Linked DNA regions of Homo sapiens. The protein of the gene in region 2 purifies or fractionates together with the protein of the main gene of each other region. This does not show direct contact. Each region holds a gene or a part of one and is shown on either strand. Other genes may lie near its edges. The genes, in order: AMN1 and PRELID3A.

The links.
Region 1: the proteins of PRELID3A (region 2) and AMN1 purify together in Homo sapiens (affinity purification with mass spectrometry; one large-scale study listed by BioGRID and IntAct). This does not show direct contact.

Annotation. Positions count from the first base shown.
Region 1 is NC_000012.12:31,722,220-31,726,038, forward strand, and holds part of AMN1 (protein AMN1 homolog), read right to left. Parts: intron 2,421-3,819; exon of another isoform or gene 2,349-2,420; intron 1,699-2,348; exon of another isoform or gene 1,570-1,698; intron 1-1,569.
Region 2 is NC_000018.10:12,424,839-12,428,657, forward strand, and holds part of PRELID3A (PRELI domain containing protein 3A), read left to right. Parts: intron 1-2,202; coding exon 2,203-2,273; intron 2,274-2,382; coding exon 2,383-2,485; intron 2,486-3,819. UniProt on the Homo sapiens protein: In vitro, the TRIAP1:PRELID3A complex mediates the transfer of phosphatidic acid (PA) between liposomes and probably functions as a PA transporter across the mitochondrion intermembrane space.

The DNA.
Region 1 (3,819 bases), on a different chromosome or scaffold from region 2:
GGTTATGGTTTCATTGTTCCAGTCTGTTCAACCAACGCCAGTCACACTGATCAAAATGTGTTATGTTTTTGGTTTTCCAGACCACTTTCACTCTGACAATGATATGTCTTTTACTGCGCAGAGGTTGCTCAACAATGAGCCAATAAGTCAAGGTATTCAACGGATATTTCACACCCCTTATCATCCTTAGGGTGTTGGCTCCAACAAGAAGTAAAACGGACTTTTAAAAAATCCACTAAAAGAAATTTCTGACTCTACCTCCTTCACACTCTCCTGGTCCATGCATCTTAGTAAGGTAGTTTGGTCACAAAAAAGGCACCCTGAAAGGGTTCATAGTCTCCTAGCCACCTCCTATATAATGATCAGGATGAAAAGGGGAGGGTTTGCTAGACTTAGTCTGATATTCTGGGATTCCACTCTGACAATTCCTGGGCATGATATGCAGCTTTCTTTCTCCAAACAATGACTCCAAGTCAGCCTGGTTGGTACACTCTCTGGGTGGCAGTCTGGCAAAAGGGAACTTAGGAAATTCAAACTTAATTCTGGTTCAGCCACCTGGATTCTCTTGTTGTACTGAAACCTGGATCAGGGGTCAGCAAACTATGACCTGTGGGACAAATGTAGCCAGCTGCTAGTTTTCAGAAATCAAGTTTTACGCCTGGCACGGTGGCTCACACCTGTAATCCCAGAACTTTGGGAGGCTGAGGCAAGCAGATCACCTGAAGTCAGGAGCTCAAGACCAGGCTGGCCAAGCTGGTGAGACCCTGTCTCTACTAAAAATACAAAAAATTAGCCAGGTGTGGTAGTGCATGCCTGTAATCCCAGCTACTTGGGAGGCTGAGGCAGGAGAATCACTTGAACCTGGGAGGCAGAGGTTGCAGTGAGCTGAGATCGGGCCACTGCACTCCAGCCTGGGCAACAGAGTGAGACCTCGTCTCAAAAAACAAGAAAGAAATCAAATTTTATTGGAACACTGCCTTTGACTGACACACACACAAACACACACGCACACACACACCACCCCTGGGGCTATTGTTAATGTGTTACAGTTGTTGACATTTTTTCAGGTTATGGTTTCATGGTTTCAGTCTGATCAACCAACTCCAGCCACACTGATCAAAGTGTGTTATGTTTTTGGTTTTCCAGACCACTGCGATCTCGGCTCACTGCAAGCTCCGCCTCCTGGGTTCACACCATTCTCCTGCCTCAGCCTCCTGAGTAGCTGAGACTACAGGCGCCCGCCACTATGCCCGGCTAAGTTTTTGTATTTTTAGTAGAGACAGGGTTTCACCATGTTAGCCAGGATGGTCTCGATCTCCTGACCTCGTGATCCACCCGCCTCGGCCTCCCAAAGCAGACCACTTTCACTCTGACAATGATAGGTCTTTTACTGCAAAGGTTGCTCAACAATGAGCCGATAGTCAAGGTATTCAACAGATGTTTCACACCCCTTATCATCCTCAGGCTGCTGCCATTTCTTTATGTGTTGTCTGTGGCTGCTTGTGTTCTACAATGGCAGAGCTGAGTAACTGTGTCAGAGGGTGTGTAGCCTACAAAGCTGAAAATATTACTCTCTGGCCCTTCACAGAAAGGTTACCAACTCCTGCCCTAGATAACAAAGATAACTACCACTTGGTTGAGGATACTGCTCACCAAGTACCCCTACAGTGACCCACACCAGTCAAGCAAGGAAACAAGGTAAGTCTGTGTAAACTTTATAAAAATGCTCTTGTTCCTCTTGCACATGACCTCTGTGAGTAGGGGATTAGAGAAAAGTAAAGCATTTGAAGTGACTGACAATCACTCCTGTTATATAGCAGATCCCCTTTATCCATGGGAAAAACATTCTAAGACTCCCTGTGGACACCTGAAATCATGGATAGTACTGAATCCTAAATCCTATATATACACCCTGCATTTACTATGCAGACATACCTGTGGTAAAGTTTAATATATAAATTAGGCACAGTAAGAGATGAACAACAACAACAATAAAATAGAACAGTTATAACAACATCTACAAGGATTGGGTGGAAAAATAAAAAATACATGTAACAATATGCCAGCATCAGTACTCTTGTGCTCTGGTGCAATTGTTAAGTAATATCAGGGTTATGTGAATGCAGTAGCCCTGCGACAATAGCTCTGATAACCAAGAAGGCTACTAAATGGACAGCATGGATATGCTGAACGAAGGCAGAATTCACATCCTGGGCAGACAGGGCAGGGTGGCATGAGATTTCATCATGCTACTCAAAATGGTGCATAATTTAAAATTTATGAATTGTTTCTTCCTAGAATTTTCCATTTAACATATATATATATTTTTTTACCATGGTTGACTGCAGGTACCTGAAACTGCCGAAACAAAACAGCACATAAGGAGAGACTACTGTATTTTGCTTTATGCAAGATTTCAGGTATATTTCAATATGTTACCTTTTTCCTACAACATGGCTCTCTGCCCCCCACCGCCACCTTTTTCTCTCAGTCTCTTTCATCTTAGCCCTTTAGTATGCTCTTCTCTGAGCTCAGCAGTGCAGAGGCTGTACCATGTGTTTCCCAAAGTAAATGGTTTCCTCTTTCTGCTCCAGTTCCCTCCAGCTGCAATAGCAGGGAGTTGGGACAGAAACAAATCAAATAGTTCTTAAAATTCTGGGAGGACTATTGAATGGCCACAAAGCCCATCCAGAAACCCTGCTGGTCAAACAAATTGATTAAATTTGTCAAATCATGTATTACATTTACTACAGCAAGGGAGATCATCTTGACAGGGTTTTGGTAGCATTTCAATAGAGGAATGTTAGGCAAGAGTATACATAAGTTTCTGGGATATAAACGCCACCAGTTTAAGTGGGTGCTTCTCCCCCCACAGTGGCGAATGGGTAAGGATTAGGCAAAGTTTGTGACTTAGTTTAAAACGGATGGACACAAAAAGCCAGGCTTGATGAGCAATCTGTCCAGATAAACATAATGTTTGTCCTAAAAATCAAAATGTTTGTCCTGATAGCTGTTTATTTAGATAAACTGATTTGCAAAAATTTCCTAGAGCAAAAAGTTAGGTTGACATAAGTGGTGTTGATTCTCAGGCCCCACAGTTGGCACAGGCAGTCTCATTTCTCAAGACAAAATGAAAAGAAGTCAGCTAAAACTTATAATCTTTAAAAGCTGTAAAACAATTGGGGAGACGGGTGGATATCCCAACCAATAATAGTTGCTCTACGTTTTATACTTAAAAGAAACAACCTATTACTATTTGGCCAAATCATCATATGGTGAATTGATCTAACAAATAAAAGAGTTTTGGCAACATGGACTGCTTCTAATGTAAGTGTTACATAAAATTTTGTCCTTGACTTTCTTTTTTTCTCTCTATAGCCCTCTTTTAAACTTAACCATGGCTTCCTATCATCTACAAAGTTATACCCCCAATCTTAGTTTCAATCCTTGATCTCTCTTCATTTTATTTGTGTATTTATGTATTTATTTATTTAGAGATGGAGTCTCACTCTGTTGCCCAGGCTGGAGTGCAGTAGCACCATCTTGGCTCACTCCAAGCTCCGCCTCCTGGGTTCAAGCAATTCTCCTGTCTCAGCCTCCCAAGTAGCTGGGAATACACATGTGCACCACCATGCCCAGTTAATTTTTTTTGTATTTTTGGTAGAGACAGGGTTTCACCATGTTGGCTAGGCTGGTCTCGAACTCCTGACCTCAAGTGATTCACCTGCCTCGGCCTCCCAAAGTGTTGGGATTACAGGCATGAGCCACTGCACCCAGCCTAATCCTTGATCTTTCTTTCAGATTCAAAATTATATTCTA
Region 2 (3,819 bases):
TTTAAGCTATTTATGGCCAGTGCGGTGGCCCACGCCTGTAATCCCAGCACTTTGGGAGGCTGAGGCAGGCAGGTCACCTGACTTCTCTGAGGTCAGGATTTCCAGACCAGCTTGGCCAACATGGCAAAACCCCATCTCTACTAAAAATACAAAAATTAGCCGGGCATGGTGGCGGGTGCCTGTAGTCCCAGCTACTCTGGAGGCTGAGGCAGGAGAATCGCTTGAATCTGGGAGGTGGAGGTTGCAGTGAGCTGAGATCGCGCCATTGCACTCAAGAGTGAAACTCCATCTGAAAAAAAAAAATTAAACTAATTAGGATAAAATAAAATTAAAAATTCCATTCCTCAGTCACATGAGCCACATTTCAGGTGTGCATTAGCTGCATGTGTGTGTGGCTACCATATCAGACAGCATGCATAGGACATTACTGTTAGCACAGAAAATTCTGTTAGTGTGGCTCTAGAGCTCGAGTGTTTAAATTGGTTTTGACAGAAAATATAGGCTGGGCGCAGTGGCTCATGCCTGTAATCCCAGCACTTTGGGAGGCCGAGGCGGGTGGATCATGAGGTCAGGAGATCAAGACCATCCTGGCTAACATGGTGAAACCCCGTCTCTACTAAAAATACAAAAAAAAAAAAAAAAAATTAGCCAGGCATGGTGGCGGGCGCCTGTAGTCCCAGCTACTGGGGAGGCTGAGGCAGGAGAATGGTGTGAACCCAGAAGGCGGAGCTTGCAGTGAGCCGAGATCATGCCACTGCACTCCAGCCTGGGCGACAGAGCGAGACTCCATCTCAAAAAAAAAAAAAAGTAGAAAATATAGGCCGGGCCCAGTGGCTGACACCTGTAATCCCAGCACTTTGGGAGGCCAAGGTGGGAGGATCGCTTGAGCTCAGGAGTTTGAGACCAGCCCGGGCAGCATTGCAAAATCCCATCTCTACAAAAAATTTAAAAATTAGCCGGATGTGGTGGTGTGCACCTGTAGTCCCAGCTACTCAGGAGGCTGAAGTGAGAGGATCACTTGAGACCTGGAAGTTGAGGATGCAGTGAGCCTTGATCACACCACTGCACTCCAGCCTGGGCAACAGAACAAGACTCTGTCTCAAAAAATAAAAAAGAGGCCAGGTGTGGTGGCTCATGCCTGTAATCCCAACACTTTGGGAGGGTAAGGCAGACAGATCACGAGGTCAGGAGATTGAGACCATCCTGGCCAACATGCTGAAACCCTGTCTCTACTAAAATACAAAAAAAAACTTAGCCAGGCATGGTGGCACATGCCTGTAATCCCAGCTACTCCGGAGGCTGAGGCAGGGGAATCACTTCAACCTGGGAGGCAGAGGTTGCAGTGAGCCAAGATCATGCCCCTGCAGTCCAGCCTGGTAACAGAGCGAGACTCTGTCTCAAAAAAATAAGAGAGAAAAAGAAAAAGAAAATATAGGCCGGGTGGAGTGGCTCACGCCTGTAATCCCAGCACTTTGGGAGGCCAAGGCGGGCGGATCACGAGGTCAGGAGATCGAGACCATCCTGGCTAACACGGTGAAACTCCGTCTCTACTAAAAATACAAAAAATTAGCTGGGCATGGTGGCAGGTGCCTGTAGTCCCAGCTACTCGGGAGGCTGAGGCAGGAGAATGGTGTGAACCCAGGAGGCAGAGCTTTCAGTGAGCCGAGATCGCGCCACTGCACTCCAGCCTGGGCTACACAGTGAGACTCCATCTCAAAAAAAAAAAAAGTATAAATATGTACATAAGGAGTTAGTCTGTTTATAGGAAGCGGTACTGGAGGAGACAAGAACCCTGCAGTCTCCATGTAGATTCAGAGTCTGTCCCATCCAGTCCTAGGAGACAGTGCTCTGTGGGCTGCCATGGGTAGGTGAAAAGCTTTCTCTCACTTATATGGACACACAGGCCTATTTGTCCTTTTCTATGGTACAACTGCTGATAGTTTTGGCAGCTTGACTGTACCTTGAAGGCCAGAGCCCTGCTCACATGTGGAGTGGGACATGGGAAGAAGATAGATGACAGTTGCCAGAAGGAACAGCAAAACCATGGTTTCCTAGGATTTAATGTGGTCGTATCTCCTATGCCTAAAAGTTTCTTCTGTTCTGGCCCCACTAAGTGCTAATTTTGGGATGGAAGAGTATGGGCAGTTGGCTTCAGAAGAAATGCAAGAGAAATACAATCTAAACCTTTTTTTTCTTTTTAAGATCACACTCACAAATTTGGTGTCAGTTAATGAGAGGTTGGTGTACACACCTCATCCAGAGAACCCAGAAATGTGAGTCATCTCCTGTGGGATTGACACATTGAATGCCACGGGTGAGGGCAGGGCAGACCCTCCTCTCTCTCAGGGCTGGTCAGCCCCTTTTCTTCTTGCTCTTTTGCAGGACCGTGCTCACACAAGAAGCCATCATCACTGTGAAGGGGATTAGCCTTGGTAGTTATTTGGAAAGTTTAATGGCCAATACGATATCATCCAATGCAAAGAAGGTATGTATCTCAATCCTAGGAGTCCTGTGTGTGCTCTAGTTGTTAAGTGCCAGATTAAGAATATGACATTTTTAGTCTCATCAGTCTTCCTGGCTGGGCATGGTGGCTCATGTCTGTAATCCTAGCACTTTGGGAGGCCAACGCAGGTGGACCGCTTGAGGCCAGGAATTCAAGACCAGCCTGGCCAACATGCTGAAACCCCATCTACTAAAAATACAAAAATTAGCTGGGCATAGTGGCACACCTCTGTAGTCCCAGCTACTCGAGAGTCTGAGACATGAGAATTGCTTGGACCCATGAGGCGGAGGTTGCAGTGAGCTGAACCACCACTGCACTCCAGCCTGGGTAACAGAATGAGACTCTGTCTTAAAAAAAAAAATAAAAATAAAAATAAAAAATAAATAAATAAAATCCTGAGTGCTGGGGCTCTCCATTTATGCTGAGCTCATAATGCCACAGTATTTCAAAACTAGGGTAGGGAAAGGCTGACCCAGGTCTGAGGGAAGTGTGTGCATGAAAGCCAAGGGAGCCAAAGTTACTCTTCTCAGTAGAGAAAGTATGGGGTAAACCTGGAGCATAAACCCAGCCAAGGCAACTACCACTTCAAAGAGCCCAAATGTCATAAGCTCAGTTACCAAAGCAAACTAACCCACAACATCAGAAATACAAGGTGTTAACAGTGTCAGGTAGGCTATTCAGGACTTATAGTAGTTTCCTATTTAATGGGCATTAAGTGGCTTTGGCTGAACCTCTCCAGCAGTGACGCTTCCATGGAGCCTGCTGCCGTCTTCACAGCTCCTCTCTGGCAGGATTTGGCAGTAAGCTTTGTGGAGGTGAGAGGAGAAAGGATAGATCCCAGGAGGCCATCCATGGTACTCCCTTTGTGTCCAGGGCACTGGAACAGAGGAAGAGATTGTTCTAGGAGTCCAGGTTGCCCTCCCCTCCAGCAGAGTTGATGGAAAGAGCTTGAATGTTTGGTAGGAAGATGTTCCTCACATTTAAAAGATGCCACTTGCCAGAGCAGGGCCTTTGCTTTTCACCTGGGCCCGCCTCACAGGCTCATGTCTTCTCTTTGTCTGTCCCTCCTACCCCTCACTCTTCCCTTTCCTCCCTCTTTCTCTTCCCTCCTTTTTGGGGGTCAGAAATGAGTCTTCATTTTTGAGATCAGTGGGTGATTCCTAAGGCTGTACTTCCCTTTCCAATGTCCTTCCATGCTTAACTCTCCAACTAGTGGAAAACCATTTATGGCTTGCATTTAGTCTCATCACCAATAGAATAGCCTGTCTATCTAATTCTGTAGAATCCAGATTTGAGAAACAGAGATTTGAGCAGCT